Homo sapiens: one gene and its partners. The protein of the gene in region 1 purifies or fractionates together with the protein of each later gene. This does not show direct contact. Each region holds a gene or a part of one and is shown in the gene's direction. Other genes may lie near its edges. The genes, in order: LGALS8, ITGA7, KIAA1549, CSPG4, SLC12A4, LRRC8E and SLC12A6.

Evidence for each region.
Region 2: the proteins of LGALS8 (region 1) and ITGA7 purify together in Homo sapiens (affinity purification with mass spectrometry; 3 studies listed by BioGRID and IntAct, with this or other methods). This does not show direct contact.
Region 3: the proteins of LGALS8 (region 1) and KIAA1549 purify together in Homo sapiens (affinity purification with mass spectrometry; 3 studies listed by BioGRID and IntAct, with this or other methods). This does not show direct contact.
Region 4: the proteins of LGALS8 (region 1) and CSPG4 purify together in Homo sapiens (affinity purification with mass spectrometry; 3 studies listed by BioGRID and IntAct, with this or other methods). This does not show direct contact.
Region 5: the proteins of LGALS8 (region 1) and SLC12A4 purify together in Homo sapiens (affinity purification with mass spectrometry; 3 studies listed by BioGRID and IntAct, with this or other methods). This does not show direct contact.
Region 6: the proteins of LGALS8 (region 1) and LRRC8E purify together in Homo sapiens (affinity purification with mass spectrometry; 3 studies listed by BioGRID and IntAct, with this or other methods). This does not show direct contact.
Region 7: the proteins of LGALS8 (region 1) and SLC12A6 purify together in Homo sapiens (affinity purification with mass spectrometry; 4 studies listed by BioGRID and IntAct, with this or other methods). This does not show direct contact.

What each region holds. Positions count from the first base shown.
Region 1 is NC_000001.11:236,526,982-236,530,481, forward strand, and holds part of LGALS8 (galectin-8), read left to right. Parts: intron 1-3,500.
Region 2 is NC_000012.12:55,684,068-55,687,486, reverse strand, and holds the end of ITGA7 (integrin alpha-7 isoform 2 precursor), read left to right. Parts: intron 1-1,172; coding exon of another isoform or gene 1,173-1,285; intron 1,286-2,198; coding exon 2,199-2,429; 3' UTR 2,430-2,919; downstream 2,920-3,419. UniProt on the Homo sapiens protein: Integrin alpha-7/beta-1 is the primary laminin receptor on skeletal myoblasts and adult myofibers.
Region 3 is NC_000007.14:138,974,890-138,978,389, reverse strand, and holds part of KIAA1549 (UPF0606 protein KIAA1549), read left to right. Parts: intron 1-3,500. UniProt on the Homo sapiens protein: May play a role in photoreceptor function.
Region 4 is NC_000015.10:75,681,849-75,685,348, reverse strand, and holds part of CSPG4 (chondroitin sulfate proteoglycan 4 precursor), read left to right. Parts: coding exon 1-130; intron 131-436; coding exon 437-613; intron 614-2,307; coding exon 2,308-2,506; intron 2,507-2,607; coding exon 2,608-2,742; intron 2,743-2,889; coding exon 2,890-3,056; intron 3,057-3,500. UniProt on the Homo sapiens protein: Proteoglycan playing a role in cell proliferation and migration which stimulates endothelial cells motility during microvascular morphogenesis. May also inhibit neurite outgrowth and growth cone collapse during axon regeneration.
Region 5 is NC_000016.10:67,962,138-67,965,637, reverse strand, and holds part of SLC12A4 (solute carrier family 12 member 4), read left to right. Parts: intron 1-1,585; exon of another isoform or gene 1,586-1,610; coding exon of another isoform or gene 1,611-1,707; intron 1,708-2,078; coding exon 2,079-2,173; intron 2,174-3,500. UniProt on the Homo sapiens protein: Mediates electroneutral potassium-chloride cotransport when activated by cell swelling. May contribute to cell volume homeostasis in single cells. May be involved in the regulation of basolateral Cl(-) exit in NaCl absorbing epithelia.
Region 6 is NC_000019.10:7,891,510-7,895,009, forward strand, and holds part of LRRC8E (volume-regulated anion channel subunit LRRC8E), read left to right. Parts: intron 1-2,063; exon of another isoform or gene 2,064-2,350; intron 2,351-3,010; exon of another isoform or gene 3,011-3,500. UniProt on the Homo sapiens protein: Non-essential component of the volume-regulated anion channel (VRAC, also named VSOAC channel), an anion channel required to maintain a constant cell volume in response to extracellular or intracellular osmotic changes.
Region 7 is NC_000015.10:34,250,782-34,254,281, reverse strand, and holds part of SLC12A6 (solute carrier family 12 member 6), read left to right. Parts: intron 1-1,897; coding exon 1,898-2,112; intron 2,113-3,224; coding exon 3,225-3,383; intron 3,384-3,500.

The sequences.
Region 1 (3,500 bases):
AGAAATAGCCTTTCAGTGGTAGTAAGTTTAAAAAAGATGACTTCCTGAAGCGGAAGCTTGTGAGACATTTAAGATGACTTTGCGCATGTTAGAGTTAAAAACATCCCAAGGTTGTAAACTGATTTCCTGCAAAGATCTTAACAACAACAACAACAACAAACTAGGCTGCCTGCCACGGGTGTCTGAAGTATCATCTTGGCTCAAGCTGGGAGAATGGATAAAGGTTACACTGTTCATTTCTGCCCTTCACACAGAAAAGAAGATAATTTTATAGGTAAAATTCGTGCATATCTTGATTCTAGCATACTGCTGATTCCTGTAGTTTCTGGGGTCAGTACTCTCAACTATTGAGGTGGAACAAAAATAAGTAGACTTCATTTCTTGAGGAAGGGGATCTGGAGAAGTAGTTCTGCGCTAGAGCAGAAAATGCCTTCAGTCTTGTGGCATGGGCTGGATGCTGTTCTGAGGATAATGCATTTCCAAGGGAGATATTTTTGGCAAATAGCTTTTTTTTCTTTCTTTTCAAAATTCTCTGTTTTATTATCAGTTCTCACAAAAGAGTCGGAAAGGTTAGAGGTAGACTGAACTGAATGGCAAAAACATTTTGCGCTCTCTTTACGTTTCACTGCTGTAAAATATTTATAGTATAAAGGGCCTGTATTGCACTGAATTTCTCTCATTTGTAGCTAGTTGCCCTTTCAATGTTCCAAAAAAAAAGGCTGTAAATAACTTATTTTATTTATTCAATTAATTTTTTTTTTTTAATTTTTTGAGATATAGTTTCCCTCTGGTCACCCAGGCTGGAGTGAAATGATGCAATCTCGGCTTACTGCAATTTCTGCCTCCCGGGTTCAAGCAATTCTAGTGCCTCAGCCTCCTGAGTAGCTGGGACTGCAGGCACGTGCTACCATGCCCGGCTAATTTTTGTGTTTTTAGTAGATATGGGGTTTCACAGTGTTGGCCAGCCTAGTCTCAAACTCCTGACCTCAGGTGATGTGCCCACCTTGACCTCCAAAAGTGCTGGGATTACAGGCGTGAGGCACCATGCCTGGCCAACTTAGTTATTTAAAGATAATCAATTAGTATATTTTATAAGCTAGACTTAGGAAAACGGTTTTCAGCTGGGCATGGTGGCTCACACCTGTAATCCCAGCACTTTGGGAGGCCGAGGCAGGTGGATCACGAGGTCAGGAGTTCAAGACCAGCCTGGCCAAGATGGCGAAACTCCGTCTCTACTTAAAAATACAAAAATTAGCCAGGCGTGATGGCAGCCTCCTGTAATCCCAGCTACTCGGGAGGCTGAGGCAAGAGAATCACTTGAACCTGGGAGGCGGAGGTTGCAGTGAGCCGAGATGGTGCCACTGCACTCCAGCCTGGGTGACAGAGCGAGACTCCATCTCAAAAAAAAAAAAACCCCCCCACACACAAAACCTGTTTTCTTGAATCATGGTTGTTTTGTTACTGATAGGTTCAATAAGTAAATATATTTATTGTCTGTTGTATTCTTTATTAGGCATTATAAACACACCGCCACTTTTTAATTTTTATTTCATTAATGTTTCCAATTTTTTTTTTTTTTTTTTTTTTTAAGACAGAGGCTCGCTCTGTCATCCAGGCTGGAGTGGAGTGGTGCAGTCTTACCCCACTGCAACCTCCACCTCCTGGGCTCAGCCTTGTAAATAGCTGGGACTACAGGCATGCACCACCATGCCTGGCTAATTTTTGTATTTTTTTTGGTAAAGACAGAGTTTTGCCATGTTTCTCAGTCTGGTCAAGCACTCCTCCCGCCTCGGCCTCCCAAAGTGTTGGGATTACAGGCATGAGCCACCATGCCTGGCCTATTTCTAATATTTTGGTCCACATTGGTGTTAGACCAACTGTCCACATTAAGTTTTCTTGGAAAAGATGAAGTAAATATTGCAACTGGCCTATGTATTTTTTTCCCTATTTAGTATATTTCTTTGACTAGTTCAACTGATAGAATTCCAAGACTTAAAAAAGTCAGGCTCTAAGGCTGGGTCCAGAGGCTCATGCCTGTAATTCCAGCACTGTGGGAGGCCAAGGCTAGTGGATCACTTGAGCCCAGGAGTTCAAGACCAGCTTGAGCAACATAGTGAGACCTTGTCTCTCTATAAAAATACAAAAATTAACTGGGGATTGTGGCGCATGTCTGTAGTCCCAGCTATGAGGAAGAGTGAGGTGGGAGGATTGCTTGAGCCCAGGAGGTTGAGGCTGCAGTGAGCTGTGAGTTTGACACTGTGCTTCATTCTGGGTGACAGAGCAAGAACCATGTTCAAAAATAAAAATAAAAAGTCAGAGTCCGGGTGCTGCGGCTCATGCCTGTAATCCCAGCACTTTGGGAAGCCGAGGCGAGAGGATCACTTGAGGTCAGGAGTTCGAGACCAGCCTGACTAACACAGTGAAACCCCGTCTCTACTAAAAATACAAAAATTAGCCGGGCATGGTGGCGGTGGCCTGTAATCCCAGCTACATGGGAGGTTGAGGCAGGAGAATCACTTGAACCCGGGAGGTGGAGGTTGTAATGAGCCAAGATTGCACAACTGCACTGCATCCTGGGCGACAGAGTGATACTTCATCTCAAAAAAAAAAAAAGAAAAAAAAAGTTAGGCTTCCTTTTCTGTTTTTTTTTTTTTTTCTTTCTTCTCTTTTTTTTTTTTTTTTTAAGAGATGGAGGCTTGCTCTATTGCCCATGCTGGAGTGCAGTGGTGCAATCTCGGCTCACTGCCACCTTTGCCTCCTGGGTTCTAGCAATTCTCCTGCCTCAGCCTCCCGAGTAGCTGGGACTACAGGCGCACACCGCCACGCCCCGCTAATTGTTCTTTTGTATTTTAGTAGAGACGGGGTTTCACCATGTTGGCCAGCCTGGTCTCGAACTCCTGAGCTCAGGCAATCCGCCCGCCTCGGCCTCCCAAAGTGCTAGGATTATAGGCGTGAACCACCGTGGCTGGCCACTTACTTTTCTTTCTATTGAATTTGAATGAATAATTTGGAAGACAGTATCTTTACTTCATACCAGGAATGCTGCCAGTGAAATTTCTTGTTTGGCAGTTCATTATCTACCTATATATTTAATTTTGCTATTGTTTATAGAGTTCTTAAGATATGATTAAATGCTAGCTGGTTAAGAAATCATTTAGAAATGAAACAGAATTGGTTGTTACTCCAAGTTAATAAGTTGCTTGTCAACATAAATCCTACCTGGTACCCAGTTTTCTTAGGAACCTTGCTTCCATGTTTATCCTTTTCTGCTTAGTATTCTAAGTACTCCTTTTTTACCTTACAATTTAGTCTTAAAACACAACACAGTCAAGTCTTTCTTTTGTAACCTGTGAGATACCTTCTAGCCTTTGTGCTGTTTTTCTTCTCTTTTTGCTGCCTGCCTTCCTGACTGAGAGTGGATTTCCTCACTAAGGCTCTGCCCTCTGATTTTTCACTCTCTTTTCTTTTTTGGTTTTACTAGTGAAATTTTGTCTTTAATG
Region 2 (3,419 bases), on another chromosome or scaffold:
CCGGGCATGGTGGCTCATGCCTGTAATCCCAGCACTTTGGGAGGCTGAGGTGAGTGGATCACCTGAGGTCAGGAGTTCAAGACCAAGCTGGCCAACATGGTGAAATCCTGTCTCTGTTAAAAATACAAACAAATAAAAAAAATTAGCTGGGCATGGTGGGGGGTGCCTGTAATCCCAGCTACTTGGGAGGCTGAGACAGGAGAATCGCTTGAACCCGGGAGGTGGAGGTTGCAGTGAGCCAAGATTGCGCCACTGCACTGCAACCTGGGGGACTGAGCAGGACTCTGTCTCAAAAAAAAAAAAAAAAAAAAAAAAAAGAAATCAGATGCAGATCTCGTTCTCAGGGATTTTATAGTCCAGTGGGATGGGAGTGGTGAGCCTGTAGTCAAGGACAAGGCAGGAAGTGTTGAGTTGAGAAAATGGAGTGGGAGTTTAGAGGGAAAAAAGCTTGAGAGGAGGTAGCACTGGAACCAGTCCTCAGAGGAAGGTGGGGTAGTAGGGTGAGGATGTAAGGGGATGAGGTAGGTGGGGTCCAGCAGGACCATGGTAGGCAAAGTCGTGGAGGCAGAGAAGTGTGATCTGACTTAACTAGAATGTGGCAGTGAAAACTGGAAAGGTAAATGTGGCCAAGAAGGCCAACAAGCACGGAGAACGGCCTCCAGGGGACTGCCCTCATGGCGGAACTCAGAGCTTCCACATACCAGGCTCTGCATGGAAGCATTCTTGTACACCCAGAGCTGTATACCGAATCATACTGGTATCCAGGGCTCAATGTAAAAGTATGCACATGCACACGTCAGTACACGGAATCACATACATCACCGGGGTCATATGCTGAGCCATCTGCCACATCGGGGGCTATGTTCAGAACCACACATGTCCTTGGGGCTCTGGAGAACTGCCCCTGCCTGTGCCTGCTCTTTGGGACCAATCAGAGACTGAGCCACCCTTTGGCAAGTGTGAATCATCAGTAGACCAGGCTCTGGAGTGGCATCCAAGCTGTTGGGAACCTTCCCAGTCTTAGGGGAGATTGATGCCTCTGTGAAACTGGTCCCAGGATGCTTGCTCCCTGCTCCCATGGAAGGAAGACAGAGCAGAGATAGGGGATCCTGTCCTTCCTCAATCTTTCCATCCTCTGCTTCCTCTGCCCTGCTTCTCCCTCGACATCCTAGTGTGGCTTCTTCCATCGGAGCAGCCAGAGCTCATCTTTTCCCACCAACTATCACCGGGCCTGTCTGGCTGTGCAGCCTTCAGCCATGGAAGTTGGGGGTCCAGGGACTGTGGGGTAACTGTTGTGTGTGTGCATGTGTCTAGTGTGTGTGGGTATGTATGTGTGTGAATATAAGGAGAATTCCCAGCATTCAGGGGATCAGGAATGTTCAGGGTGAAAAATGAGATTGCATGAGAGTGATGTGAGGTGAGAGGTAATTAGAAGGGTGCAGATATAAGGGTAAGTCTACACAGCCTGAGGCGTGCACAAAGGGTTGGTGGGCTCATGGGGTGTGAGCATGTGGGAGTGTGGGGAGGTCGCATGCATGCTTTTTTCTATGGGCATGAGTGTGCAAGGAGATGAATGTGTAAGGAGATGCCATGCAGTCTGAGCATGTAGGAGTCCTGGGCCTCTGAGTGTGAGTGTGCAGGGGCACATTCCCACCCTGGTGTGTAAGGGCCAGCATGGTCCTCATTTAGGGTGGGGCTAGACTACTGTATTGATGGACAAGAGGGTATTGCTGTAAGGGGCGTGCCGCCCAAGGTACAAGTACACGGGGTGCATGTTTATGAGGCTTGAGAGGTATCATTCCAGAGATGCAGGGGACTAGGAAGCCATTTTCTTCCTCAGGTCTTGTTTGTGTTCTGGGGGACACTATTGGGTCTCTTAAGAAGCTAGAGGGGGTACAAATCTTGAGTCCGGTCCTGATGCTCCACCCTCAAGGCCCTCTTTCAGGGGCCAAGGGAGATACCCTTGGTCCTGCCTCTTGGACGCCCTTCTGGTCTCTCTCTTGCTGTGAATGAGAACCTGGGGACACAGCACTGATGGGAGCACCGTGGGTGCTGCCCACCACACCAGATGCTATTCAGCCTATTTCCTTTCTGCCGCAGCAGGGATGGTGAGGGTGAGGAGCTGTGCCGCGCTAGGCATCTGCTCCAGGGACCGCAGCTCTTCAGGCTCCTCATGGTCTGGCCTGGTGTCCTTATAGATGGGATTCTTCAAACGGGCGAAGCACCCCGAGGCCACCGTGCCCCAGTACCATGCGGTGAAGATTCCTCGGGAAGACCGACAGCAGTTCAAGGAGGAGAAGACGGGCACCATCCTGAGGAACAACTGGGGCAGCCCCCGGCGGGAGGGCCCGGATGCACACCCCATCCTGGCTGCTGACGGGCATCCCGAGCTGGGCCCCGATGGGCATCCAGGGCCAGGCACCGCCTAGGTTCCCATGTCCCAGCCTGGCCTGTGGCTGCCCTCCATCCCTTCCCCAGAGATGGCTCCTTGGGATGAAGAGGGTAGAGTGGGCTGCTGGTGTCGCATCAAGATTTGGCAGGATCGGCTTCCTCAGGGGCACAGACCTCTCCCACCCACAAGAACTCCTCCCACCCAACTTCCCCTTAGAGTGCTGTGAGATGAGAGTGGGTAAATCAGGGACAGGGCCATGGGGTAGGGTGAGAAGGGCAGGGGTGTCCTGATGCAAAGGTGGGGAGAAGGGATCCTAATCCCTTCCTCTCCCATTCACCCTGTGTAACAGGACCCCAAGGACCTGCCTCCCCGGAAGTGCCTTAACCTAGAGGGTCGGGGAGGAGGTTGTGTCACTGACTCAGGCTGCTCCTTCTCTAGTTTCCCCTCTCATCTGACCTTAGTTTGCTGCCATCAGTCTAGTGGTTTCGTGGTTTCGTCTATTTATTAAAAAATATTTGAGAACAAAACCTCTGCCTCTTTGAGTCTTGCTCTGGCATCCCCAGCATCTCTGATTCTCCCTGGTGCCCCCAGCTCAGGAAGAAGGTGGTAGTGGGGAGAGAGGGTCAGGGGGGCTTGGCAGGGATGCAGGCACCATGACTTTTGTGACCAGTTCCTAGAGACGCATGGGTGTAGCCTCAGGAGGAAAGCGAGAGGAGCTTTACCATGGGAACGAAGGAAAGGGACAACATTGGGAGGCAAACGTTGGGAGACTAGTCCAGAAACTTGCAGTTGAGGATACAACAGGGTCCTAGTGTTTCCTCCCTGGGTCAGCGTAGAAGTAGAGCTTTTTCACTGTCGAAGGCGGGATTGAAGTTAGAGATTGCCCTGGCAGAGGTTGGGGAGAGAGGGACTAGTAGGTGGTACATGAATGTCTTCTCTCATTCTGCTAGGTCCCTCTCAGTGGAAGATAGATAGGCTGGTGGGTGGCTTGTTCTAATTGGAGGCTGGGGAAGGAGCAAATGAGTGC
Region 3 (3,500 bases), on another chromosome or scaffold:
CCATCCACAGTATAAAAACAAAGAATCATGCCCAGTTTCTTCACCTTATTCAGAGATAAGTTTTTAAAAAGTAATAGTTATTATGAAATAGATTGCTTTGTAGGGAATTTGGAAATTACTGAAAGGTACAGAAACCAGTCACCCATAATCTCACAGCCTGTAGGTAACACTAAGTAATTTTATCGTTTTTTTGTTGTTAACATTAAAAAAAGAATTATATGCACAATTGTATTTACTACCATTTCCACTCTACATTTAACTTAAGCATTTTTCCATTCATTAAGTCTTATTTGAAAACTATTTTCTATCCTAATGATTTATTCTTTTATTTCCATTTTTTGGGTTGCTGTAAGTAATGCTGATGAATAGCTACATAGAGAAGGCTCTGCTGGCCATGCGCGCTGGCTCACGCCTGTAATCCCAGCACTTTGGGAAGCCGAGGTGGGCGGATCACCTGAGGTCAGGAGTTTGAGACCATCCTGGCCAACATGGTGAAACCCCGTCTCTACTAAAAATACAGAGATTAGCTGGGTGTGGTGGCATGTGCCTGTAATCCCAGCTACTTGGGAGGCTGAGGCAGGAGAATTGCTCGAACCAGGGAGGCAGAGGTTGCAGTGAGCCGAGATGGCGCCATTGTACTCCAGCCTGGACGACAGAGCAAGACTCCGTCTCAAAAAAAAAAGGCTTTGTGCATGTTTCTTTCCGTGTGTGTGTGTGTGTGTGTGTGTGTGTGTTTTCTTGAGTATACATTTGTGGAAGGGGTATTAGAGTGTGATTAAAATGTAAGGCCCACCAGGCTGGATTTCTGCATCTTTTGTTCAAAATGCTGGGCCCCTAGTAGGTACTCAGTATGTGATTTTTGAATGAAGCAATTTTTGAAAGTTATAATGCTGACATAAGCCCTTGAAGCTTACGCAGGGGCCTTCCATTATCACTTGCATTGAGTATTCACTTCATCACTGGCATTGAATGTTACTTTAAAAGCCCTTGTTAAATAAATTTGTAATACATTGTTTTAACCTGCACGGTTTTATTGCTTTAGAATTGAATATTTTTTATTTTGTATTTGTATTCTGTGAATTTTCTCTGTATTTTTATTTATTTACCTGTTGTGGCATAGATATGTATTTAAATCTTTATGTATTAGAAGGATAGCAACCATTTTTCCTTCTATATGTTGCGTTTTCCCCTTCCAAAGGAATTTCTTTTAAATTTTACATAATTTTGAAATGTAGAAGTTTTTGGTTGTTTTGATTAGCAAGATCTGCCATTTGTTCTTTTAATAATTTTTTTATTGCATTTATGCTTATGGTGTGTGAAATTTTTTTCTTAATGTGCTGTTTTATTATTGGCCATTTCTAGGTGAATATTTATGCTTTGTGAGTCGTTTAGGATATTATAAACAAATACTTAAATGTTTCAAAAGTGTGGCCCCTAGGCCTCCTGCATCAACATCATTTGGGGATGTGGGGGTGCTTGTTAAGAATTTAGATGTCTACGACTCACCCTTAGCCTCTAAATTAGACTCTTTGGTGGCAGTGCCTGGGAATCTTCATTTTAACAAGTTGACAGCTCCGTTTTAGCCCCTGAGCATTGGAACCACTGATCCGGATATGGTAAACCCAGTAACTGAAAATTAACAGTATTTTGAAGATATAGTAGTCCCTCCTTATCTGCAAGGGATGTGGTCCAAGACCCCCAGTGGATGCCTGAAACTTTGGGTAGTACTGAAGTCTGTATATACCATGGTTTTTTCCTATATGTACATACCTGCAATAAAGTTTAATTAAAAAATGAGGCACAGTAAGAGATTAACAATAATAACAAAACAGAACAGTTCTAACAGTCTACTGTAATAAAACGTGAATATGCTGTATCTCAAAATACCTCAGAATATCTCAAAATATCTTCAAACTGCAGTTGTCCTCCGGTATCCGAAACCTTGGAGGAGGGGGACTACTGTATACCATTGGTATCTTGCAGTTGTCTTTTCACTGTTAGAACAGCTAATTTAAAATCGTTATGTTGAGGCCGGGCGCGGTGACTCACGCCTGTAATCCCAACACTTTGGGATCACCTGAGGTCAGGAGTTGGAGACCAGCCTGGCCAACATGGTGAAACCCGGTCTCTACTAAAAATACAGAAATTAGCCGGGTGTGGTGGCAGGTGCCTGTAATCCCAGCTACTTGGGAGGGTGAGGCAGGAGAATTGCTTGAACCCGGGAGGCAGAGGTTGCAATGAAATGAGATCGCGCCACTGCACTCCAGCCTGGGTGACAGAGCAAGACTCCATCTCAAAATAAAATAAGATAAAATAAGATAAGGTAAAATAAAATAAGCATTTTTTGTTACATGTTTTTGCTTGGTTTTGTTTGGGTTGGGAGTGAAAGGGTGCAGAGGACTGCATTTTCAATGCTCACTCCTGCCCGTTTGGGAACAGCTGCTGCAGTGCTTGTCAGGAAGTGCCTCACTTAATTCTGAAAACAGAACCCAGCCAGGGAGTTGTTACAAGTCACTAGGGACGTGGGAGCCACAGGTTTTCTATCAGTGCCCTGAATGATAGAGGCAGCTAATTACCGTCATTATAATTACACTAGGTTGATTTTCCCAGATAGGAAGACACTGTTCTAACTGATCTAATTTGTTTTCAAGTTGTGACCACCCACCTTTCATCTGGAGCTCACAATGATGTGATTTCTTTTTCTTGTTGTTAGGCAGCAGGATTTGTTAAAAGGTGAGTTAAAAAACCTGGGTGTGTGCAAATGCAAATCTGCCTGTAACTTTGTGACTATGGACAAGTTACCTTGTCCTGGGTTTCCTCCTCGGTGTAAGAAAGGGTTAATGAGATTAGCGCTAATCTCATTAACCCTCTAGCTCCTTGTAGCTCATTTCTCCCTGTAGCTCCTACATATCAAGTCAACATCTTGGATGTCTTGGAATGCACTTATAAGCAGCATCTGTCCTTTTTCTGTTAGGTTGTTTTGTCATTTCTCCTTGCCTGGTAGATGTTCTAGGCCCATGACCTGCTGAAGGCAGCTCACTCTCACCATTGCAGATGGCTCTTCTTTTTAAAAACTCCCTTTATTCTTCCCTCTTGCATCCACACACTCAAGACCCATACTTTGCTTTCTCTTATTCTTTCTCTTTGTCTCTTTCTTTTTTCCATCTCCTTTGTTAGCTTCAGGCAATTACTTCTCATTAGTGAAATTCTAATCTTGTGGTCCCCACACTCTGAGCATCATCACTGCCTCTTAGCTCGCATCATCACTGCCTCCACTGCCTCGTAGCTTGTTAGAAAATGCAGAATCTCAGGGCCCACCCCCGACCTTCTGAATCAGAATCTGCATTTGACAAGATCCCCCTGGTGATTTTGCATGCACAATTGAGGTTTGGGAAGCACTGGGCTAAGAGGTAAAGTGCCTTCTGTTCTAGCCTTCTGGGAATAGGTATTGTTGGAACATTGAAGGCTAAGTCAGCCTGGACTAACTCTGGAGCTATGTA
Region 4 (3,500 bases), on another chromosome or scaffold:
TGTCTCCGGGCCCTACTTCCCCACTCTCCTGGGCCTCAGCCTGCAGGTGCTGGAGCCACCCCAGCATGGAGCCCTGCAGAAGGAGGACGGACCTCAAGCCAGGACCCTCAGCGCCTTCTCCTGGAGAATGGTATGGCTGTGAGAGAGGCCCAGGGGCTGCAGCCCAGCTCTGGGGGCAGAGTGGAGGGAGCCCTGGGGACTCCCAGTCTGGGGGTTATACACAGAGAGGAGACGGGGAGTCACATTTCAGAAGCACCTATGCTTTAAATACCATATATCTTTTCTTCCTCACAACTCCTCGGAGCCAGAACTTATGGTCCCCATTTTCTACCAATGGAAAATGAAGCCCTAAAAGAGTCAGTCTCCTCCTGCACCCAAAGGCAGGGCATGAAGGGTGCTGCTGGGGCCTGACTGCCAGCCCTGGGCCTGCCCCTAGGTGGAAGAGCAGCTGATCCGCTACGTGCATGACGGGAGCGAGACACTGACAGACAGTTTTGTCCTGATGGCTAATGCCTCCGAGATGGATCGCCAGAGCCATCCTGTGGCCTTCACTGTCACTGTCCTGCCTGTCAATGACCAACCCCCCATCCTCACTACAAACACAGGCCTGCAGGTGAGAGCATCCCTGGGAACACCCCCATGTCTGCTTCGAGAAAGAGGCCAGCGTCCCCTACTTCGCGGCTCAGAGCTCCCCCAGCTCTGATCCTCAGTTTCCTCCTCTGCAAAATGGGGACGCTGCCACATGCCTCACGGGGTTGTTGGAAGGAGAGAAGTGAGATTGTGCTGAAATAGAACACAGGTGGGAAGTTTTTTTATTGGATGTTTGCAAGTATGGTAGGCAGACTTCTGAGCGGCCACGGGTGGCTCTGCTGTTCCTTCTTCTGTGGCTAAGGACCAGAACATCTGACAGAATCACTTACAAGCCCTTAAGGGCAGGCATCAGGGCGGAAGCTGTTAAGTTTCCCACCTTCACCCAGCAAGTGAAGGCCATGGCTTGGCTCCCCAAACTCCTGCACAAGGCTGTTCCACGCCCAGCAGGACAGTGCAGGGAAGGCCCTGGTGAACTTCGCTCAGGCAGAGGTAAGGGCCCCACTCTGCAGGTGGAAGTTGAGGCCCAGACGTGGGATGGAACTTCTCCATGGTTGCAAAAGTAGTTCTGGTGGAACAGAAAGGGCATGGCTTTACAAAGCCCACATGGCAGGGCTTTGAACCCCAGCTTCTGGGGTGCATCCTCCCCGGTCAGCAGGAGCCACTGAAGTTTCCATAAAGGGCTGACTTGGGCTGTCTCTGGCATGGGGTGCCTGGGGCGGGGGTGGGGGCGGGGCCTTGGTGGTCTAGGATGTGCCCGTAGCGGGTGGCCTGGTGGTGCGGAAGCCGCCAAAGAGTGGGACACAGTGCTCTGGAACCACAGGCCAGGACGGCTGTGTGGCAGCACAGCCACCAGGTGGTGCCATCTACCTGTGTTTGCTCCAGAAGCCTAGTGCTGGGGTCCTGCCCCGCAACATTATGGCCCCTCCTGCCAGGGCTGGGCCTGAGGGCTCCCTGGGGCCGGGGGAGGAAGCCCAGGAATGCCAGAAGGCTCTGTTTTCCGGGCATGTGAGTCCCACTGCAGCTCTGCCCGCAAGTAATTGACCCAGCAAGACTGGTACCAGGACCTCAGGAACAGGCACCTGCTCTGCTTGCAAGTGGGAGGCCTGAAAAAGGGGTCCCCTTTGCCCAACATAAGGAGGGCCCCTAACTGCTCTGGAAGCACCTGGGCCCATCCCACGCTGATTCTGTGCTGCAGAACAGTGCCAACCATCAGCCCCCCACTCTCTGCGCCACGCACCCCTCCCTCAGCTGGAAGGAGGGCCCATTTCTAAAATCACCATTCCCACCTGTGCCCGGCCCCGGCCAGGCACACACGGAGGCTCTGAAAGGAGACCCCTGTCCCACCAGTGAGACAGATTAGGGAGCACTGTTGGTCAGCGCTGGGGGTTTCTGGGAGTGAGAACTTGGTGAGGGTAAGAGCTGGGGCCTTCCTGGGTAGGGGACATAAGCTGGCCTTGAGGGACACACAGGACTAGGGCAGATGGAGAGCAGGGAGGCTGGGCCTGGAGGGTGACCTTCCCTGGGGCCTTCCCTGGGGTGACAGGGAAGGTGAATGCGGGAGGCCCTTTGTGCAGGGGAGCCAGAGTGGCGCCAGCCTCGATGCCACCCGAGGGGCTGAGCCGCAGCAGGACTGGAGCCCTGGTGGCAGCCCAGGGCCGGGGAGGAAGGGGTGGGTGAGTGCGGCAAGGCAGAACCTTCACAGGCCTGTGTTCCCAGATGTGGGAGGGGGCCACTGCGCCCATCCCTGCGGAGGCTCTGAGGAGCACGGACGGCGACTCTGGGTCTGAGGATCTGGTCTACACCATCGAGCAGCCCAGCAACGGGCGGGTAGTGCTGCGGGGGGCGCCGGGCACTGAGGTGCGCAGCTTCACGCAGGCCCAGCTGGACGGCGGGCTCGTGCTGTTCTCACACAGAGGTGGGTGCTGAGGGCCGGGCCTCGGGTTCCTGCTGCCCACGGGGGTGCCCTGAGATGGGGAGCCGGCTCGGGCCAGCTGGACCCAATGCCCCTGTCCCCAGGAACCCTGGATGGAGGCTTCCGCTTCCGCCTCTCTGACGGCGAGCACACTTCCCCCGGACACTTCTTCCGAGTGACGGCCCAGAAGCAAGTGCTCCTCTCGCTGAAGGGCAGCCAGACACTGACTGTCTGCCCAGGTGGGTGTGCTGATCATGGGCATTCCTGGGTGCCAGGAGCTGGGGCGGAGCTGAGGGTGGCATGCCAGGGTCACGCTGCCTCTTTGCAAACACAGGCCTGGACCTGGCTCCCAGTCAAAATCTGATATCCCCTTTTGCCTCTGGCAGGGTCCGTCCAGCCACTCAGCAGTCAGACCCTCAGGGCCAGCTCCAGCGCAGGCACTGACCCCCAGCTCCTGCTCTACCGTGTGGTGCGGGGCCCCCAGCTAGGCCGGCTGTTCCACGCCCAGCAGGACAGCACAGGGGAGGCCCTGGTGAACTTCACTCAGGCAGAGGTAAGGGCCCAACTTTGCAGCCACCACTCAGATGCCCCCAGCCTCAGGTGGCCGCTGTGCCATGGACATCATGTGGACATGGATGCCAGCTCCAGCATCACTGGCAGCAGACGTTCCCGGGCCTGCCATTGTCCAGGCGCTAGTGTCCTGTCCTCCAGGAGCCGCCAGGCTGGCAGGGCAAGTTCATGTTCCCAGAAGGAGGGAGAAGGATGCAGAAAGTCGGGGATACAGGGCCCTAGAGCAGGGCTGGGGTCTTGGGGTATAGCTTCCAGAAGGAAGCTACAGCCGGACCCGAGGGTCTGGAGAGGGGGCACCATGTGGGGGCACTAGTGGTACCCCAGTAGCTGATGAGGGGCAGTGCTTGGTGGGGGATGGAGTTGGACGTGAAGCAGCGGCTGGGCCTGTGGGCAGAGGTGTGAGCCTGGGGCTCAGGTCAAGTGCCAG
Region 5 (3,500 bases), on another chromosome or scaffold:
GACCAGGCAACAGTGATGGGGCAGGCTGTAGTACATGAGTTTAGAATAAATTATAATTGATTTCCAGCCTACTTCCACAAAAGAATCAGAAGAAATAGCCAACAAAAGTGTCTCCCCAAGTGATTGTTACTCTCAGGAAGATTGAAAACCATGCAGAGGAAGGGGGCAAGCACTCAGGTGAGACAGATGGTGACTTTATCTAAAGAGTAAATTTAGCTTGGAGATTCCTGGCAGCCAAAGCAGAAAGAGAAGTAAGACGAGCTGTATAACTGGCATTTTCTGACAAAATGAAGCACCTGATTTATCAAAGGGAGACACTTTTTTTGTCACAAAAATCCAAAAGTAATTTTCAAAGGCTTTTCACTGAAGAGCCATTAATGTCATTAATGTAAGAGGCAGAGTGTTACTGGGTTTTCAGATTTTTCTTGGGACTCCTTCTGATCCTGAACAAGCATGGAGGGTACAGCAGATATCATAGAGTGTCCGACATGACCCCGCCTGGCTTTAACATGACACGGTGGACTGTCTTGACCTCTGGCTGCCTTTGTCCACTGTGCCATTGGCATTGACCTATGTGAATGTGGGGCTGAGCTGCTTGGCTCACTTAGCTAGTCCAGGTTGCTGGGTGTAGCAGGTGTGCCACTTTCACATGCTGTGGGAAGGAAGAACTGACTTTGCCCCAGAAACTGTCATGGGCACACTTGATTTGTTAGTTTCCTTGGGGGATAAAGAATCCACAGCACAGCACCTGCTGAGTGGTTGTTGGCTCAGAGAAAGCAATTGAAGCCTCATGCTGATAGCAAGAGATGTATCAGATACAGGAGGATGCCTCAATCAGCATTCTCAGCTGCAGTCAAGAAAAATGAATTGTGGCCTATGTAAACAGAAAAGGTTGGCGGGCATGGCCAGTGCATGGCCCAATCACACCACTAGCCTGGGCTGGTGGTGACAGTTCTGTTGCCATCTCCATCACTGGACACCATGCCAGTCCTTCTCATGTCAGAACTACATACTGCTGCCATCCAACACCAAGATGTGTGCTTTCCATTTGCTGTGAGGCCTTGAGCCAGGGCCGGGGCTGCGAGGGTAGCTGGGGTGGAGGGAACACTCAGCACCTAGAAAACGAGTGCTTGGCGTTCTGCTTGGTGGGAAGCTGGGAATGGCACCCACCGAGACTCATAAGGGACAAGAGTTGGAAAACAGGGAAGAATGAATGATAGGAGGCCAGAAAAAACAGTCGAGCTTTGGGAGTTGAGGCAGGCTTATTGAAAAGGAGCATTTCACTCCTTTTGGCGAGATTTCTCAGAGCTGGGGCACTGGCTCATCAGCCTAGGGCTGTAGGCGGAGGTTTGCCTGGGGCAAGCGGCGGGATCTGCGGGCAAGGGGGCCATTGTGTTGCTCCTGCCAGCAGTCCCAGCTCCCATTTTTCTCCCTGCTCAGTCCGACACCCACCCGTCCGACTTTCTTAGGCAACCCTAGAAGGCTCCTGGAATCCACTTCCGCTCTCCACGGCCTGGGGCTTGCCCCACCTCCCGGCATGCCCCGGGCTGCCCTGCAGGACGCCCCCCGCGCAGTGCATGGTGGGGTAGCCAGCCGGCCACCTTTGGGCCATGGCAGCCGAAGGTGCTGTGTGCGGCTTCGTCTATCTGGAGGGCACTGCCTGGGCGGTCCCTGAGGACACCGAACCCTTGGCATCCTGCACATTGGGTACTCCGGAAAGACCGGGAAAGGGACTGGGGCGTGGAGGCGATCTGGGGGCGGGTCAAACGCTGGCCCCGCCCCTCTGCAGGCCCCGTCCCTCAGTGTCCATACGTGCTTGTGCTAGGGCGCCTGCGCCCTCACCTGGATTCCCTTCACTGGAGGGAATGATGTCCCAGGTTTTGGTCACTGGCCTCTCTCTGGCTATCCCTGGGCCTTCAAGAGCATTGGCACGGTGCCATGTGAAAACTGAGTTGCAACCTGGTGACACTGCAGCTCCAAAGTGCTCCACAGAAATGATTTGGGGACTGGCTTTCTGGGAAGGGGCCCAGGCTGGGGGGCTCAGGAAGCAGGCCCTGATTGTCCCTCTCTCTTCACAGGACATGGCAACCACAGAGAGAGCAGCCCTTTTCTTTCCCCCTTGGAGGCTTCCAGAGGAATTGACTACTATGACAGGAACCTGGCACTGTTTGAGGTAGCTGAGGAGCCATTTTGGGCCACAGGTTTGGCACACAGAGGCTTTAGCTAAGCAGGCAGGCTGGACACGTGGGCCTCCTCTGTCTTGCTCTTCCTCTCATCTCCTCTTGTGTTCCTGGTTCTCATGGCAGCCGGGCTGCAGTTCCCTTGGCCCTTTCAACTGAAACTGCCTTTCCAGAGGCCACTCACAATCCCACCCCCATTGCTACCTCCAGGGTGGTTCACCTCTGACTTCCTTACAACCCCTCAGCAAGGAAACGCCCGCTTAGGATTTCCCAACTCAGGATTTCTCCTCTTCCTTCCACTCCTGGTTCTTCTCCAAGTCCATGGTTCTTCGCTCTCCCATGGATTCTTCCTTGTCTTTCTTGGTTGACCCTTCCAGCTCTGTCCCTCTCTAGTTCCCTGAGTCCTGGTCCATTTGCAGCTTTAGGGGATACGTCTCTGGAAAGATTCCCAAATATCTGCCTCTGTACTTGAGTTTTATCTTCTTCAGACTCAAGCTGAGCAGTGAGATCTGGATTTAAGACGTAGTTTAAGCTCCTAAACTCTGACCCATGCATTCAGCCACTGCATGGCTGAGTAATGGAGACTCCTTAATCTGCCTTTTTTTTCTCTTTCTTCATTTTGAGATGGAGTCTCACTCTGTCGCCCCAGGCTGGAGTGCAGTGACGCGATCTCAGCTCATTGCAACCTCTGCCTTCCAAGCTCAGCGATTCTCCTGCCTCAGCCTCCCGAGTAGCTGGGATTACAGGTGCCCACCACATGCCTGGCTAATTTTTGTGTTTTTAGAGACGGGGTTTCACCGTGTTGGCCAGGCTGGTCTTGAACTCCTGACTTCTAGTGATCCTCCTGCTCAGCCTCTCAAAGTGCTGGAATTACTGCTGTGAGCCACCACATCTGGCCGAGGCTCCTTAATCTCCACATGCCCCCAAGGGCCCTCGTCTTCCTTTCTCACACCAAAGCAACTTCTCCCTGTGTGTAGGTCAGAAAGGAGCTGACAGAGAGGGAAAAGCTAAATGTGGGCAGGAGGCAGGTAGAAGCACAGCCTCGAGAAGGCTGCAGGAGCAGGGATCATCGCCTAGACCCCGGTGGGGCTGGGGGACCTGAGCTCTGGGAGGCCTCCTGACCTGGGAAAGCAGCAAGGTTCTGCGGTGAAGGCCTTGGCCCAGCCCCGCCTGAGGATGGGCTGGAGGATCAGGATCCCATCTCCGCGATTGATGTGGGTACTTGCAGGACTGGGGTCAGGGGAAGACCATCCAGGGAGATCAGGGTTTGGGCAGACAAGGGAGACTTCACTTGTCCCAGACATCACTCTTTTGCCCTCT
Region 6 (3,500 bases), on another chromosome or scaffold:
TTGGTCCCTGCTCGGGTGTGTGTGTGTGTGTGTGTGTTTGTGTGTGTGTGTGTGTGTTGTGTGATTTCTTCTGCAGCCTCCAGAGTCAGGAGTTTTTGTTTTGTTTTGTTTTTTTGAGACGGAGTCTCGCTCTGTCGCCCAGGCTGGAGTGCAGTGGCGAGATCTTGGCTCACTGCAGCTTCTGTCTCCCGAGTTTAAGCAATTCTCCTGCCTCACTCTCCTGAGTAGCTGGGATTACAGGCATCCACCACCATGCCTGGCTAATTGTTTTTGTATTTTTAGTAGAGACGAGGTTTCACCATGTTGGCCAGGCTGGTCTGGAACTCCTGACCTCAAATTATCCGCCTACCTTGGCCTCCCAAAGTGCTGGGATTACAGGCGAGAGCCACCGCGCCCGGCCCCAGTCAGTAGTGTTTTGCTTGCTGTGTTTGAGATAGGGTCTTGCCCAGGCTGGTTCATGGCTCACTGCAGCCTCTAACTCCTGGGTTCAAGCAATCCTCCCACCTCAGTCTTCCAAGTAGCTGGGACTACAGGCATGCACCACCACACCTGGCAAGATTTTAGATTTTTTTTTTTTTTTTGAGACGGAGTCTCGCTCTGTCGCCCAGGCTGGAGTACAGTTGTGCAATCTTGGCTCACTGCAGGCTCTGCCTCCCAGGTTCACGCCATTCTCCTGCCTCAGCCTCCCAAGTAGCTGGGACTACAGGCGTCTGCCACTATGCCCGGCTAATTTTTTGTATTTTTAGTAGAGACGGGGTTTCGCCGCATTAGCCAGGATGGTCTCAATCTCCTGACCTCGTGATCCACCCACCTCGGCCTCCCAAAGTGCTGGGATTACAGGCGTGAGCCACCGCACCCGGCCCAAATTTTTAGATTTTTTTGTAGAAATGGGGTCTGACTATGTTGTCCTGGCTGCTCAAACTCCTGGGCTCAAGCAATCCTCCTGCCTCAGCCTCCCAAAGTGCTGGAATTACAGGCCTGAGCCACTGCACCCAGCCTGGGGTCAGCATTCTTAGGTAAAGCAACTGAGCAGTGTCCCTGCAGGATCCTTGGAGGACTCAATGGATGGCCGGAACCAAAACAGGACGTGAGGGTCCCTGGTGCTGGGTCCCTCCGAAGCTCAGTGTGTGTACTTGGACTTTATACCCTCGTGCACAAATATGCATGACCCAAAATGACCCCAAGCGTCCATTTTGGTGGGTGCAATGTACATATTCTTCCCCTGGGGACAGTTGAGCTATCCTGGTATGTTTCTACCAGATTACATACTGGTGACCCAGGCAGACTGGGATATTTGTAGTCGGGTTTCTTTTCTCTTCTCTTCTCTTTTTTAGAGACAGGGTCTTGCTCTGTCGCCCAGGCTGGAATGCAGTAGTGCAATCTTGGCTGACTGCAACCTCCGCCTCCCGGGTTCAAGGGGTTTTCGTGCCTCAGCCTCCCGAGTAACCGGGACTACAGGCACCCTCCACCATGACTGGCTGTTTTGTATTTTTATTTTTATTTTGTTTTAGTTTTGAGACAGAGTCTTGCACTATTGTCTGGGCTAGAGTGCAGTGGCGCAATCTCAGCTCACTGCAACCTCTGCCTCCCAGGTTCAAGCGATCCTCCTGCCTCAGCCTCCCTAGTAGCTGGGATTACAGGCACCTGCCACCACGCCCAGCTAATTTTTTGTATTTTTAGTAGAGACGGGGTTTCATCACGTTGGCCAGGCTGGTCCCTAACTCCTGACCTTGTGATTTGCCTGCCTCGGCCTCCCAAAGTGCTGGGATTACAGGCGTGAGCCACCGCACCTGGCTAATTTTTGTATTTTTAATAGAGACGGAGTTTCACCATGTTGGCCAGGCTGGTCTCGAACTCCTAACCTCAAGTGATCTGCCCACCTCGGCCTCCCAAAGTATACTTGGCTTTTTGCTTAGGGCAGGGAGTGTGAATGAGCATGAGGGCCAGGCCATGGTGCGAAGGACCCTGTGCTCTGGGCACCCCCTTGCATGGATCTGGGTCTGGGTGAGTCACTGCCTGAGTCAGGGAACCCATGACTTTTTTTTTTTTTTTTCCCGAGACAGAGTCTCGCTCCGTCTCCCAGGCTAGATTGCAGTGGCACGATCTCAGCTCACCACAACCTCCGCTTCCCGGGTTCAAGCGATTCTCCTGCCTAGCTGGGACTACAGGTTCATGCCACCATGCCCGGCTAATTTTTGTATTTTTAGAAGAGACGGGGTTTCACCATGCTGGCCAGGCTGGTTTCGAACTCCTGACCTTGTGATCCGCCTGCCTTGGCCTCCCAAAGTGCTGGGATTACAGACGTGAGCCACTGCGCCTGGCCCAACCTATGACATTTTACACTTGCATGGTGAGTCCCCGTGTGGGCAGGCTGTACCCACACCCTTGCCTGCCTATCTGATTCCCCAGACTGAAGTGGGGGCCTCTGAGGGGGTAAAAGGATGTGGTCTTTCGGGACTGCTTGGCCTTTAGCTTGGTGGGTGGAGCCTGTATCCTACCTTGTTTTAACCCAGGAGTCACCCCAAAATATGGGGGGGACACAAACTGAAAAGGGAGGCTCAGACATGTCAGAACCATTGGCTGAGTCGTGGGTCAGGGGACCAGGGTTTCCCTAGATTCTTCCTGGGGAGATGGATGGGGAGCCAGAGATAACTCCCTGATGGGCAGATGCCCTCCTTCTTGGCCCAACTCCTGTCCCGTTACAGATTATCTTTGTCTTTTGTTTTGTTTGTTTGAGATGGAGTCTCACTCTGTCACCCAGGCTGGAGTGCAGTGGCACGGTCTCACTTCACTGCCACCTCTGCCTCCCCGGATCAAGACCCTCCCACCTCAGCCTCCAGAGTAGCTAGGATTACAGGTGTGTGTCACCACACCTGGTTAATTTTTTGTGTATTTTTAGTAGACTCTGGGTTTCACCATGTTGGCCTCACTGGTCTCGAACTCCTAACCTCAAGTGATCCACCTGCCTCAGCTTCCCATAGTGCTGGGATTACAGGCATGAGCCACCGCGCCCAGCCCCAGTTACAGATTATCTATCTGGACAAGGACAGGAGGCTCCCAGGAGTGGGGGAACTTGGATGTTGGCAGAAGTGGGCTGGTCTAAGGTTCCCCACCTTCCTTGTTCCACCTCCAGCCTCTGGGGAAGTAGGTACCTGCCTGGGAGAGTGACATCTCAGCTCATGCCCCACGCCCCAGTGTGATTTGTGGCTGGCCTGTCTGTATCTGTAATAGTGATAGCTTGGTCTAAAAGGAGACCCTGGGAACAGACAGAGTGGGCCGGCCAGGAGCCTGACAGCACAGCCCTAGCCTGGTCGCAGATGTCACCTGACAACTTTCCATTTGCAAATCCTCCTTCCTCCTCGGACATCCGGACACCCCATTGCCCCCTCTCAGAGCCCAGGTCTCTGGTTTCTGCCTGTGATTCTGGGCTGTAGCCCCTTTAGAAACTCAGGTGTCCTGGTCACCTCCTACCCCCAGGGCTGACTAGCCTTCAGCTTGGC
Region 7 (3,500 bases), on another chromosome or scaffold:
TAATTTTAAGTCAGAATTTCATAGAGTCTCTCTGAGATTTTCCCTCTCAGATAAGCCCAGTTAGACTTCCTTCCTCATCTAGGCAGGAAGCCTACCAGCAAACTATGTCCCGTTCATCCTCTTTCTTATGTCCTAAGCATAGAACTAGTAGCTGTAACCATCATTTAGGTTCAGATATTAGATTTTTTTCTCCCTGATAATTGTACATAATCTTTTTTTATTATACACATTTTGAACTATTCATAAAGGGCTTTGCAGACAGTGTAGTTATTGCCAGCAACCTTTATAAGGCCCACCTTGGCCTCCCGACGTGCTGGGATTACAGGCGTGAGCCACTGCGCCCAGCCTAGGTCAGGGCTTTTATCCATTACCCAAATAATGTACTTTGTACCCATTAAGTACTCTCTCATCATTCACCACCTCCTTCAACTCCCTAGTGCGAATACTTTAAAGTATGTTTTTTGAAGTAGTAATGGATTTGTGCACATCTGTGACTCACAGGCTCACTTTTCCCTTTGACTAGTGGCATAGGGACTAGCTGGCACTCAGTGTTATTTGTAGTCTTGTTACAGAATTATCTTGAAGAGTCATCTGGATTATCTGAGGATCAAACTCATCGGTTCTATGTTGATTTAACCAGATTACAGAAAAAAAGATTTTTCAAGACAAAAAGACAGTTCCAGTAGGTTTAATGACTTACCTCAAAGTTAATTAATGGCAGAGCAAGAAGATGAACTGTGATTTCCTGACTCCCCATTCAGTATTTCTTCTATGCTATGCTGCATGATGGCAGAAGTAGATTCCATCTTAAACTTTTAATCTGCTTATCTAGGGACTGTAATACAGCTGAAGGTCCTTTTTAGGGGCATAAAATTTCTAAAGGTGACATTCTGGTTATATCTCAATTTGGGAAATTCCATTTTGTCTCAGGTTCACCTTTGGGGCTTCTCCTCTTTTTTGATTAGTACACGGTCATAATGCATGGTATTTTCTTTGAGATATTCCAGCAAAACAAGACAAAAAATCTAGAATAATACATGAAACAAGACTGGGAAATGTTGAGAGTTGTTGAAGCTGAGTAATAGGTACATGGTTCATAATAATGTATTCAATCATTTTGCAAATTTTAGAAGTCCCTTTGTTGGACCTGAGAGGTATTTTAACTATGGATGTATTATTCCTTTGTTTATATTTGTGTCTCTGGGTTAAAGAAAAAAGTAAAACCAGCAGGTTAATATTTATGTTATCCTTACCGTCACTCCCACTGAGTCTAGGCTTAAATTCAAAAACAGTTTTCTCTTAGGCCATAGAGGGATCTGCCTTTTAATTCTGACCAAGCTGTTTTCCTTGCAACAGTAGCCAGAAGATTCAACCTTTAGCATAACATTTTCAAGGTGTTTGTTATGAATGTTAGGCTTTTCTAGGCCAAAAAAAGAGGAGTGCTTTTTACTTTATAAGAACAACAAAAGGACTTCAGTATTCTTTTAGACCTAACAATTTTAGCCAAAAATTTTGGAAGATGAGTCAGCATAATGTCTTCAGACAGTTCTTCAATTTGACTTCCTTCACTGCCACCACCTATGACCTTGGACAGATAACTGTATTTCCCTAACCTTCAATTAACTCCCTGTCTTCCTAAACTTCAGTGCCTCCATCCACAACATAGAAATTCTAATACATTGTGAGGTTGCTGTAAGTATTAAATTGGCAGAAAATGTAAGTCACCATTCACAGTGTTAAAATAAATTATAAATAAATAAACATTAGTTCCTTTCCCACCCATAACAGTAGAAGCTCTTAAAGATGGGGTTCTTGTTTCCTTTACTAACCTGTTTCCTTTTTTTTTAATGTACTTTTTTTCCTTACTTGATCTTTCTCCCTATTTCTTTTCACTTAGGGTCTGCATGCTGGGTAACCGCACCCTTTCATCAAGACACATTGACGTTTGCTCTAAGACCAAGGAAATTAACAACATGACAGTCCCATCAAAGTTATGGGGATTCTTCTGTAACTCGAGTCAATTTTTCAATGCCACCTGTGATGAATACTTTGTTCACAATAACGTCACTTCAATCCAGGGCATTCCTGGATTGGCTAGTGGTATAATTACAGGTAAGTTAGGGAGTTATTGGACAAGTTTTTTCCTATTTTCTGGGGAAAATAGGCCTTGTCATCTTAGATTCCTCTACTGTCCATAAAGATTCACTGCCATGGTGCTAATTCCCTTCTTAAGCACACCACACAGCTCTTAATTCACCATATTTCTGCTTTTCCATTAGTAAAGCTGTCCTTATTCAGTACTCCTTTACAGAGTGATGTCTGCTAAAATTCACCTCCATTTCAGAGCAGAGTTGAGCAAATCACTTTCTAACCTTACGGTAAAATATTCCGTGTATTCTTGTAAAATTGCCAATGTTCTTCCTGCACTGACAGAATAGACCTGTTTTAATGTCCACATCCACATGTATCTTCCTAACTTAGCTAAATTCCTGAAACATTCCTTAAGTGTCTTCTATTATAAATGTTTGGTCTATAAATTTCTTTGCACATAAGTAAGTTTACATTAAGGTGTTAGAAACAGCACTGATGACAAATAATAATGGGATTTGTGGGGCATTTAGTTTTAGTCTGTTTAACTTTTACTAATTTGCATTAGTAAAGTTAAACTATATTTGCATGTACCAAATCATTTTGTCAAATTATATTTAAATTAGATAAGAAAGAACATTATGTTTAGCTGGGCGCCGTGGGTTATGCCTGTAATCCTAGCACTTTGGGAGGCCTAGGTGGGAGGATCATGAGGTCAGGAGATCGAGACCATCCTGGCTAACATGGTGAAACCTCGTCTCTACTAAAAATATAAAAAATTAGCTGGGCGTGGTGGCAGGCGCCTGTAGTCCCAGCTACTCAGGATGCTGAGGCAGGAGAATGGCGTGAACCTGGGAGGCAGAGCTTGCAGTGAGCCAAGATTGTGCCACTGCACTCCAGCCTGGTGACAGAGTAAAACTCTGTCTCAAAAAACAAACAAACAAAAAAAAAACTATGTTTTTATTTATGTGTGTTTTATTGTGCAATGTGTGTGTATACATGTGCTCATGTAGAAGCAAACACACCTTTAGAAACTGTATAAATGAGGAGCCTGATTTTGAATGTTTGGGTAGAAAATTAATTATCTTTTTTTTTTCATACTGCTGCTGCTTAAATTCCCATTTTTCCCACTGCAGAGAATCTTTGGAGTAATTACCTACCCAAGGGAGAGATCATCGAAAAGCCTTCAGCCAAATCTTCTGATGTCTTAGGCAGCTTAAACCATGAATATGTTCTTGTTGACATCACCACCTCCTTCACGCTTCTGGTGGGAATCTTCTTTCCCTCTGTTACAGGTAAACACATAGGCTGTTGTATATTTTAGAAGCTGTCAGACCCACGGAGTGATTTTTCTCAGGAGGCAGAATTCTCAGGGTTCCTAGATTTGCTTCTACTCTTTGCTATCAGTATCA